3 linked regions of the Homo sapiens genome follow. The protein of the gene in region 1 interacts with the protein of each later gene in a pairwise test. Each region holds a gene or a part of one and is shown on either strand. Other genes may lie near its edges. The genes, in order: ALX1, OR52L1 and ZNF300.

Evidence for each region.
Region 2: the proteins of ALX1 (region 1) and OR52L1 interact in binary tests that used the Homo sapiens proteins (3 or more experiments, as listed by UniProt).
Region 3: the proteins of ALX1 (region 1) and ZNF300 interact in binary tests that used the Homo sapiens proteins (3 or more experiments, as listed by UniProt).

The regions. Positions count from the first base shown.
Region 1 is NC_000012.12:85,283,147-85,286,904, forward strand, and holds part of ALX1 (ALX homeobox protein 1), read left to right. Parts: intron 1-425; coding exon 426-730; intron 731-3,706; coding exon 3,707-3,758. UniProt on the Homo sapiens protein: Sequence-specific DNA-binding transcription factor that binds palindromic sequences within promoters and may activate or repress the transcription of a subset of genes.
Region 2 is NC_000011.10:5,985,298-5,988,601, forward strand, and holds OR52L1 (olfactory receptor 52L1), read right to left. Parts: upstream 1,689-3,304; 5' UTR 1,634-1,688; coding exon 644-1,633; 3' UTR 595-643; downstream 1-594. UniProt on the Homo sapiens protein: Odorant receptor.
Region 3 is NC_000005.10:150,903,232-150,906,989, forward strand, and holds the start of ZNF300 (zinc finger protein 300), read right to left. Parts: upstream 1,750-3,758; 5' UTR 1,473-1,749; intron 747-1,472; 5' UTR 633-746; intron 153-632; exon of another isoform or gene 119-152; coding exon of another isoform or gene 98-118; intron 87-97; exon of another isoform or gene 1-86. UniProt on the Homo sapiens protein: Has a transcriptional repressor activity.

The sequences.
Region 1 (3,758 bases):
AATATATTTTCTGAGCCACATTAGTAGCTTGGTTTTATCTGCTGTGAATAAAACACATGACATTAAATTTGCTTCAGTTTTCAAAAATCATGGACACTTAAAGTTTCTTTCATGAAACACCCAGATCATCTTTTAATTCGAGTACATGAATTTAAGTAAAAAACATGTGCATAAACTTATAAATCCTGTAAAATAGAACTGCGGATTTTGGCAGATCATAGCAGTTGCATGAACACATTTTAAAATGGTATTTAAACCTGTCCTACAATGAATTAAGTATAGAAATGTGGTAATTGAATTAATACTAGCACAATAAATTATTAATAGGCCAATTTCTTGATACTCTCAATTACTTCTACTTATTGATTTAATTGAGATGAGTTTCACAATCCTGAGAACTGTTGTTTTTCCTCCTCTGGGTACAGTGAACTATGGGATCACTAAAGTAGAAGGACAGCCCCTTCACACCGAACTGAATAGAGCTATGGACAACTGTAACAGTCTCCGAATGTCTCCCGTGAAAGGGATGCAAGAGAAGGGAGAGCTGGATGAACTTGGGGATAAATGTGATAGCAATGTATCCAGCAGTAAGAAACGGAGGCACCGAACCACCTTCACCAGTTTGCAGCTAGAGGAGCTGGAGAAAGTCTTTCAGAAAACTCATTACCCGGATGTGTATGTCAGAGAACAGCTTGCTCTGAGGACAGAGCTCACTGAGGCCAGGGTCCAGGTAGGAGCCAAAAAGAGGCCTTGATGGATGGGATAGGAAAATAAATGGTGTTAGAATAATTGAATAAGTGCATTTTGCCACAAAGAAACAAACTGATTCCCTAGCTGAAGATGAGAAACGGAGTAATATATATGAATATATGTCTACTAAAATTATTTTTTAATTGCAAAAATTTTGACAACTCACGCAATATGTAAAACAAAAGAACACAAGTTATTACAGAGACATAAAAATTAACAATCATTCAAACATAACAATATGATAATATATCTCTGATTTTCAAAAGCAGTTTTTAAAGGATGAAAAGCAGAATCATGACTATTTAGTAATTGGTATATTTATTTGTTTTTTTTTTTTCGGTTTTATTAGCCACTAAGGTTCTTTTTTAGATTATATATCAGGTATTTGTAAATTATTTGTATAATAGCCCATACATCTAGAAATTTCTAGATTTGGAGGCATAATAAAAAAAAAAACAATCCCACAAATTCCCAATTGTTATGTATACCATGGAATGTTTTCACTATGGATAATTAAAAACAAGATCAAATAGTGCTCATTTACAATTTTATAGTCCTAGTAGTTGTCAACATGTAAATATTCCATTATAATGGTTAAAGTCTAGATAAATCATATGAATTTTGCATAGGCAATAAAAATAATGGCTTTAAAGTAAATTTTTGTGTATACTCAATTATGTTTATAAGATATATTCTAGTTATTAAATTGGATGATCCAATATGCTTAATTTTTAAAAATAATTTGAGAAAGAAAAATCATACCAGGTAAAATTTTACCTCTTAGGAGTACTTTATTTTGACTACATTTGATATTCTTAAACTATATTTTACTAGTTTCCAAGTAGTAAGAGTTTAAAATGCAACAATAATTCAGGATAATGGCCTTGGTCTTTGTGTGTGTTCTGACTCCTCTACAAAAGTATTGATTTTTGCAATTCCCATAAACTGCTAAAATGGGGGAATGAATAAAATAGTGAAAATTTTTGTTCTAAATCGAGTAACGGTATTTCTTCTTAAAATTGTAAGGCTCTTACATCATTAGAGACAACATCTGGTGGCACACGGATAACAAGCAGCAGATTTTTACTTGAGTTTGTGGAAGCAAATGGTTACTTTATCTTGGTTCAGGAAGTAAATATGTAGAAAGTTCATGCTAACAAAGAATTTTAGAATTGTCGAGTATTAACACCCGCTGTGTAAGTTTGAGATTTTTGTCTTTGTCTATATTTAAATTAGTTATACTTGTAACCATAAACAAATATGTTTGCACACAGAGTGACCAACTGTACATAATGCATCTTTTCCCCTTAACATTCACCAAGTCTTGATTAATTTTTGTCTGAGAACATGCACAGAGAGCCAACTTGAACTTAATTTACTCAGGTCGTTCTCTTTCCTGCTTTGCACATAAGAGTGGTAACTATTACTCATTTTAAGGAAATTGTCAAGTTCTTTTTGTCAATGGAAAAAAAAATAAAACCCAAAAACGTATTACTAAATTCCCTTAGTGTGTTCCTGGGGCTCATCTGCGGAGACAGCAAGAAAATTTGATTTGTTTTTTGTTGTTGTTGATGTCTTGAGCCTTGGCATAATGGATAATATGCATTTATCAGCAGTGTACTAAAACTATAATGAACATGTAGCTCTCTGGCTCATTTCAATTGCTGAAAACTCTGCAAAGTGCCATCTTAAATTTGTAATGTGTACTAAAAAATTAAACTGAGTATTAATATGTTGCCATAATGGTGAAGGTAAAGATATACAAGATTAGAATTGAGTATGAAAAAGAGTGAAAATTTCAAGTAAACTTCAACAAAAGGCTTTTACAACTTGCATTTTTTATATTTGATTTCTAGCCTTTTTCCTAAATATTTTATATTCTGAACATAATTGTGTGAAGAAGACTAGATTCCCAAAAGCTACTCCTATAATGTTCATTTAAAAACATCCAAGTATATATATTGAATATAATCTTCTGCATCTCCCTTTAATATTAAAGTGAAGATATTGGAATATTACAGGTATGAATTAATGAATATCCAACCTGCTGAGGAAGATGGTTCTTATAATAAATACTTCTAATAGGTAATTAGAGAAATTGTGGAAGATAGCTTAGTGACCTTAGCTGCCACAGTAACTGATAGACTTTCTTGACACTTGGTTCTATCTGCCCTATTTCTTATATTATTTCCATTACCTGTGCTTTAAATTAGAGAAATTACGTAAAGATATCCGAGCATTTTCATAAGGGAAAATAAGTTGCATAATGTATGTAATAAGCACATTCACGTATTTTAAAACCATAGTTCAACTTTAGATGATTCCTTTTTACCTATAATTCTTGTCATGCTTATTATAATATGTAATCTCATTTTTTCCTATTTCTAGATAATCATGATGTTCCTGCTGCTGCCATATATTTAGGTGTAATCTTTATGTTTAAAATTTTAAAAGATTATGTAGGTATGAGCACAACTGAGAAGAGCTTTCACTTTTGTGATATATTTTAAAGATAAGTTTTAATAGACTCAGATATTAATTTGCTTATAGATTGACTGAGTTTACGTTACGGCATATACATCTTCCAGACTTGCAGCATTCTCTTAAAGGAGACTTATCCATGACAATGTGGAGATATATGGAGTATTCAGGATCATATAATCTAATTGCTTTTTGTTTTCCATAAATGAGAAAACAGAGGCTCAGACGTATCAGATGTATTTCCCGAAAGTCTCCTGCCTCTTTCTATTAAATTATTTTGTCTCATGGGAAAATCACTTACCACATCAAGATACAAGAAAAAGTAAAATCTGTGGATCCTTTTCTAACATAAATACATTTCTTTTTACGTAATTTTTTTAACCTGGTTTACCTTTCTTGTTTGATGTCTTTTAACATCACATTTGCTTTATCAAATATTCCTTAGCTAAAATTCTAATTTTTATTAAATAATTAGGTTTGGTTTCAAAATCGAAGGGCCAAATGGAGAAAAAGGGAACGTTATGGCC
Region 2 (3,304 bases), on another chromosome or scaffold:
GAGATATCTTTTAAAATAAATTTCCTAGACACATATAGATTTCTTCCTTGAAAATAGAAATTATATTTTATTATTCCTAGAGCCTATTACCATAACTTCTCCACTTATGTTTGTTTTAAATAAATAAGTAATACCCATATTGCAATAAATGCTGTTTTCTTACACTGCGACCTTCTCAGCTGCTTTGAAGAGACCCTATTGGTAAACAGGAGCCAATGATCTGGGGATCCCAGCACTAACTTAGAGGTTTTGAAGAAACTCTAAACCTAAAACCAACCAAAGGGTGGGACTTTACAATTCCAGACAGTGTTGCATGGCCTACCATTGGGCAAAGGCGAGAAAGATGACACATTCAGAGCTATCATCTATTTCTCCTATCCCCAAGTCCTACTGACACAAGGAGTAGAGAAATGTTGAAATCAAGAGCAAAAGAAAAAATGGCAAAAATATTCACAAATCCAGATATCCAGGTACATCCCAATAAGCCAAGTATCTGTGGGTGTTCTTTAGCATGGCACTAGTAAGACTAGAAGGAATACTCACTGCAAAATGGTCTGTATTCATGTAATCTACACCAGTCACAGGCTCCTGGCTGTGGTCCGCAGAAGAAGCCTCCGAAGGAAACAATGAGAATATGTTCAGATCAATCCTTTTGTGTAAACACTCTGAGCACTCGCTGGCGGATCTGCTGAGTCTTCACTCCATAGACAAGAGGATTGAGCGCAGGTGGCATGAGGAGATACCGTGTGGCCAGAAGAACATGGACATGATGGGGTACATGATGACCAAAGCGGTGAGTGAGGAAGGAGAAAATTCCAGGGACATAGAAGACCAGGATGACACAAATATGAGAGCCACATGTGCTAAACGCCTTAAGTCGGGCCTCACTCCCTGGTACCTTCAGCACTGCCTGGAGGATGTGGGCATAGGAAACACCAATGGCCAGAACATCCAGCCCAATCACAAGCAAGGCCATAGTCAGCCCATAAGCTCGATTGACTGTGGTTTCTGAGCAGGCAAGTTTCACAACAGCCATATGTTCACAATAGGCATGGCCTATGATGGTGGCTTGGCAGAAGATAAGTGTTCCCAACAAAATGGGGAAGGGGATAAGGAGTAGTAATCCCCTCACCAGCACCACCATTCCGATGCGCCCTATGACCCCTGGATGCAGGATTGTGGAATGGTGCAAGGGGTGACAAATGGCTACATAGCGATCCAGAGCCATGGCCACAAGTACCCCTGACTCCATGGAGGAGAATGCATGGATGAAGAACATCTGGATCAGGCAGACGATGTACCCAATCTCGTGGGCATGAACCAGGAGCACTGCAAGGGCTTTGGGTGCAGTGGAGGAGGCCAGAACCAGGTCGATGGCAGCTAGCATGGACAGGAAGAGGTACATAGATTGGTGCAAGGATGGGTCCATCCAGATGATGAAGAGAATGGTAACATTGCCCACTAAAGCAAGGAGGTAAAGGATGCCCAGGGGCAGTGCAATCCAGTGCTGGCTTTCCTCTAAACCTGGAATCCCTACCAGGAGAAAAGAAGGCTGGGATAGCCTCCAGCTTGAATTGCTAAGGAGCATTATCAATGGCTTGGAGAGGAAAGAGAAAAAAGAAACCAAAGTCATGATTTCTGCATTCCTGCTACATTATCACATTGTCCAAATGGGGCAACCATCATCCTGAGAAGAATAAAGTGACTTCAACTGCAAACGAAGGGAATAAAGTTAGCTACAGGGAAGAAAATCTCCTTTGGTGGAGATAATTCTTTTACAAGTGAGACATCCACATGTCTGAATTAATACAAGCTTAGTTTTGTTTAGAGATAAGAGTAAACATAAGCTGCTTTTGGAGAGATGCTTAAACTCTACTATTCAGTTGCTTATATTTTGGAACTGTCAACTTCAAAGAGTTATTTTTATTAGCCTCTTGGTATTACTGACCACTGTGAATCAATCTGTTGTTTTTGAAATTAGTCTTCCTCAGTTTCCATGACATGGCACTCCAGAGTTGTTCCCCCTGTAGCCTTGGTCCCACCATTTTCTCTATCTCATTATGTCATTGATTCCAGGGATCCATCCTCTCCTGTATTCCCTATTCTGTGCATTATCTCTTAATTGACTTCATTTATTCCCATGGTTTTAACTGTTTATATACTTTTATTTCTTCCAAATTTATGTCTGTTTACCCAAATATCCTTCTGAAATATAAATCCATTTTTCCATTTGCTTTATGAATATCTATACACCACATCCTCAACATATTCAACATTGGATTAATTCACCTATTTTTCCCAAATTTGTTCTACTTATGTTTTGGCAATAATTTTTAATTACATCCCTAGCTACCTACACAACCCAATCTAAAAACTTGGAACCTGTCTTTACTCATAATCCTCATCCCCTTTTATTCATTCACCAATTCATGTTGACTTTATGTTAACCCCTCTTATATCCACTCCTTCTTCTCAACCCCCAATATCACTACCTTAGTTTACACCCAACTTCTCTCACCTGGACTATTTCATAACATCTTTCTGCCTTTGCCATAAACACCTTCCCAATTCACTCTCAACCCTGAAGTCATGGGTTTTTTTTCTAAAATGCAGATCTCATCATATCACTCCTAAGATTAAAATCCTTTGGTGAATTTATTGCATGGAATAAAATCATACTTTGAGACTGGCATAAAAGATTATCAAAAGTTATCTTTTTTGCATTACTTTTGTCTTACAGTTGATATATTTCTACATATGTTTTACTAACCATCCCTGCATTCTTGGAGTTACATGTACACACCAAGCTTACCTATGCCTTTTGTGTAGTCTGTCTCCAAATTCCTTTATCTGAATTGGTCCTTCAAAATTCAAAGTCCACTGTCACCCCTCAAAAGGACTCATTGCCTATGTCAGATGAATATTGATTATGTTCAGAGCACTTTATAATCTTCCTTTATTCATCCATAACTTTCTGACTTATCTCTAGAAATTCTATCAGTGTCTTAATGGTTTGTTTTTTTAAAGAAACATATCTTATTATACTTTATAATTATAACATAGCATGGTGAACATTTCACAATGTAGTGAGATAAATAAAAGCAATGGAGGAAGACAGACTTAGTTTAAATTTTGTCCATTTCATATTCTAGGAATAAAACCTTGGCAGGATACTAAAACTCTCTCAGTCTTGATTTCCTTATTTTATAACTAACATCAATCTTACAGGTTTATTGTAAACATTAATTAAGTAATATATGTAAAGTCTTGATATCTAGATTAGTCTACAAATTATAGTTATAAT
Region 3 (3,758 bases), on another chromosome or scaffold:
GACTGCAGCTTTCACATTCACCAATCTTGCAACAACTAACATCAGAAGTCAAGTAACTAATGGGCTACCCTGTGGGATAAGGTTGTTTGAGCCTTACAGAAGTCTCAGCAGGCACCATGTGGAGGAGGGATCATTCTTTACTCCTCTTGTACCTATAATATGATCACATAGAAGTTGACCAAGGTTTTATAATTGGATAGATGTGAAGATATGTTTCCAGTTGATTTACTAACAACTTACTGTTCCCCTTGGGAATCAGCAATTCTATTTATAGAAGATTTTCATGAGGCAATAATCATGGATAGCTATATAAGGATATAAGTGAAGATGGAGCTCCTTGGCAGTAAGAATGGGAATGACCAAATGGAAAACTGAGGCATGTGTTCCCTATTCCTAAAAAGAACCAGCAGCTGAATTCCAACAATTTTCCAAGAACTCTCTTATATTTTCCCCCAACTTAGAAAACTCTTGCTAAATCAATGTGCATGAACTCAAAGGTTAATTTTAAGATGTTTTCTGTTTAAATTTTTATTGCTCTTTTTCAACAGCTCTATTGTCTGTATACAAAAATGGTGATAGGTTGGAACCACTGGAAAAAAAAAGAGTATACCACAATGCAGGAAGGTAAATACCTGGTAAATTTTCCTCAGTCCCAGGACAAGTCATGCAGACAGAGCTGAACTATTTCAGAGGACGTGGGGGCTCCCATGACAGACAGATTATTTTATATGGGGGTATCAAAACATCTGGAAGGAAACAAAAGAAACAATCATACTCATCTCTGGATATCCCGCAGATGCTCAATAAATGTCTCTTGAATAAAATATAAAATGATTTAAATAAACTTAGAAAGTGGAGAACTGAAATCAAACTTTTAATTATGATTTTATCAGTTTTGATTTGTTTGGTCTTGTTTTAAAATGACCATTTGATGGGGGTACCATCAGAAATGCTTAGTGGGCAATGGTAGACTAAGAAAAGATGTGAAAAGGGGTTGACCTTTAAGAACTCAAACAGTTGCCTATGACCTGTGGAAATTTAACGTTAAGTAAAGGCCTTCCCCAGTAAAATGTGGCTGACCACCATGACACCGTGGCCCCATTACTGTCCCCATCTAAATCTCGGAATTCTCAGGCCTAGTAATCATATACCCTACTGAACTCCCCCATGTCCATCACATCACTGAACACATGGACGCCCCCATCATTTAGTCCATAGCCTCCCATCACTGATTCCTCAGAGTCCCCTAAATCACTGAACCCAGTTAAACCCACCAGTCAGTCCACCTGCAAGCCATTCCTGACCTAATAGACACCCCCTCACCTCTCACTTCCCTGTTACTAATCACATCTCGGACTCCCACATAAATCCAACATTAATCCCACCTACTTCCCCCACCAGTGATTTCATAAACCTCCTACCACTGACCCTCACGGGCTCCTCTCCTCCCATTACCAATCCCACAGACTCACCCTTCACCGCACACATCCCGCCTCTGACTCCCAGCTCGATTATCAGGTCCCAAAACCACCATCACCGCTTAATGGGAACCGCTGTCACATCCCTATTGGCAAACTCTCCTGCTTCCTGTCCGCGAGCACCACACCGGGCTCCCGAGGCTGCGCCGTTCCGTACTGGGCGGTTTTGCCCGTTCCGCATCTTCAGAGGCTTTGTTCAGGAAGCAACATGGCTGCTCCCTGGAGCTGTTTCCGCATGGGGCCGCCATCTTGAGAGCCCGGTCGTCTTCGTACTAGCGGAGGATTCGCCCAGTGCTGAGCCCGAGAATGGGCTGTACCACAGCGGCAGCGAAGGGAGGGGAAGGCGACGGAAAGGAGGCCTGCGAAAGGAGCATTAAGGAGCACACTTTTGCAGAAAGATTTTACAAGGGGGATTGAAGAGGAAGTTGGAGTGAACCTTCCTCTATTGGAAGCATGCTTCTGACGAAAGGGGAGGAATTTTAGATGGTACCATGGACGTGTTTGTGAATGGTACAGCCCCATGCCGGGAGATTCGACTGCTCAGAGGGGAAGCGTGGAATGGTGCGGTCCTCTCCAGGGAGATTTCACTGTGGGAGAGAGGGACAAAATCTGGGGGCTGAACAATCATTGTGTACTGTAATTATGCCAATAACAACGGTAAGGAATCCTTATAAGGGAATTTGATATTGCAGTAATAAGTAATAAGAGGTCGACTGAAGGAAAAAGGGAAATTAAGAGCAGGGAAGAGGAGACTGAGGCACAAAGAGAGGGAAGTGAGAAGCAGAGAATCAGAGAGAAAATGGGGGAAATGGGGACAAAGGAGCCAGCCTAGAAAGGAGGAGAGACGGGAGACTGAAGAGAAAAAAATAGACATAGGAATAGAAGTGGGGATCTAAGGGGTAGAGCGTGGTAGACAGACAGATTGAGACAGAAAAGAGACTTGAAAATTGGAACAGACATAAGGGAGAGACTGAGAAGGTTAGATTTCAGAAACAACAACAACAACATGATTTTTTAAAAATGAACCAGCCAAAGAGAATACTAAAATTGTTATCTTAACCCTTAGACCTTACATCAAGCTTTAAAAAAGCAAAATGCATGTTCACAGACCAATGTTTCATTTGTATAAATGAATACAATTTTGAATCATAATTTTCACACGAGTCATGCTTTTTGATATGTTATGAAATAGGCAGCAATTTTACATTTAGCAATTTATTTCTCATGTCAAAACAAATGCACTTAGATAAGAAGACAATGTATTCAGAAAGAACACTGTTGCATTAGGAAGAATGCTCCAATCTCAAATCTGCAAGAATCACAATATCAACAAAATGACTTTTTTTTTTTTTATAGGGAAGAGTAAGAAGGGTTAGCAGGAACTTTGTAGGGAGAAGGATATGAGATAGGGGTGTGCAGGTGGCAAAACCAGGGCATTTCTACAGAAATTGTTTCTGTTGTCATGGAATTCTGAGAATAAGCGGTTAAGGGGAGATGTTTTGAATCATAGTGCATTAGTGCAGTGTTTCAACTCAGGGGAAGCCAAAATGAAGGGGCCTGCGGGAAGGAGAGAAGTCTGACTAAAGGTTGGTCAAGACAAAGAGGATAAGAAATAGTTGGTTGTGAACACTTAACCTCTTCATCTCTATTTAGACTTCCACAGTTATATCAATATTTATTTCTTGACTTGAGCTTAAGACAGTGTAGACACTGAGTTTAGTGGTAAAGGTATATAGTAATGATTAATTCAGATACCTCACCCTCAAGGAGTGATGCCAGTGGAAGTTGTAGAGTCAGGAAAAGGCCAGACTCTACTACTATTCCTATGCGGAGAGCCTTGTAGGAATTGTAAAAACTTTAGTTCTTCATCTTAAGAATTACGGAAAGCTGTCCTTATGTAGTACCTAATTTAAAAAGAAGATGTTGAAGGAACAGGAAGCCTCCCTCATAATGAAAGGAAGAAAATTAAAGCCATAGTACAATACCATTTCCCATCTATTTGCTTATAAAATATTTTCTAAGTTTGGCAACACTGTTAGGCCATGGGAAATATCATGTGTTACTGGTGGGACAGCAAACTTACAGCCCTCTTTAGAGGGTTTGGCAATATCTAGCAAAACTACATGTATTAGTTATCTATTGCTGTGTAACAAATTACCCAAAACTTAGCAACTTGAAATTATAAATATTTATTGTCGCATAGTTTCTGTGAGTCAAGAATGGGAACAGCTGGGCTGGGTGGTTCAGGTTTAGTCTCTCGTGATGTTGCAATCAAGCCAT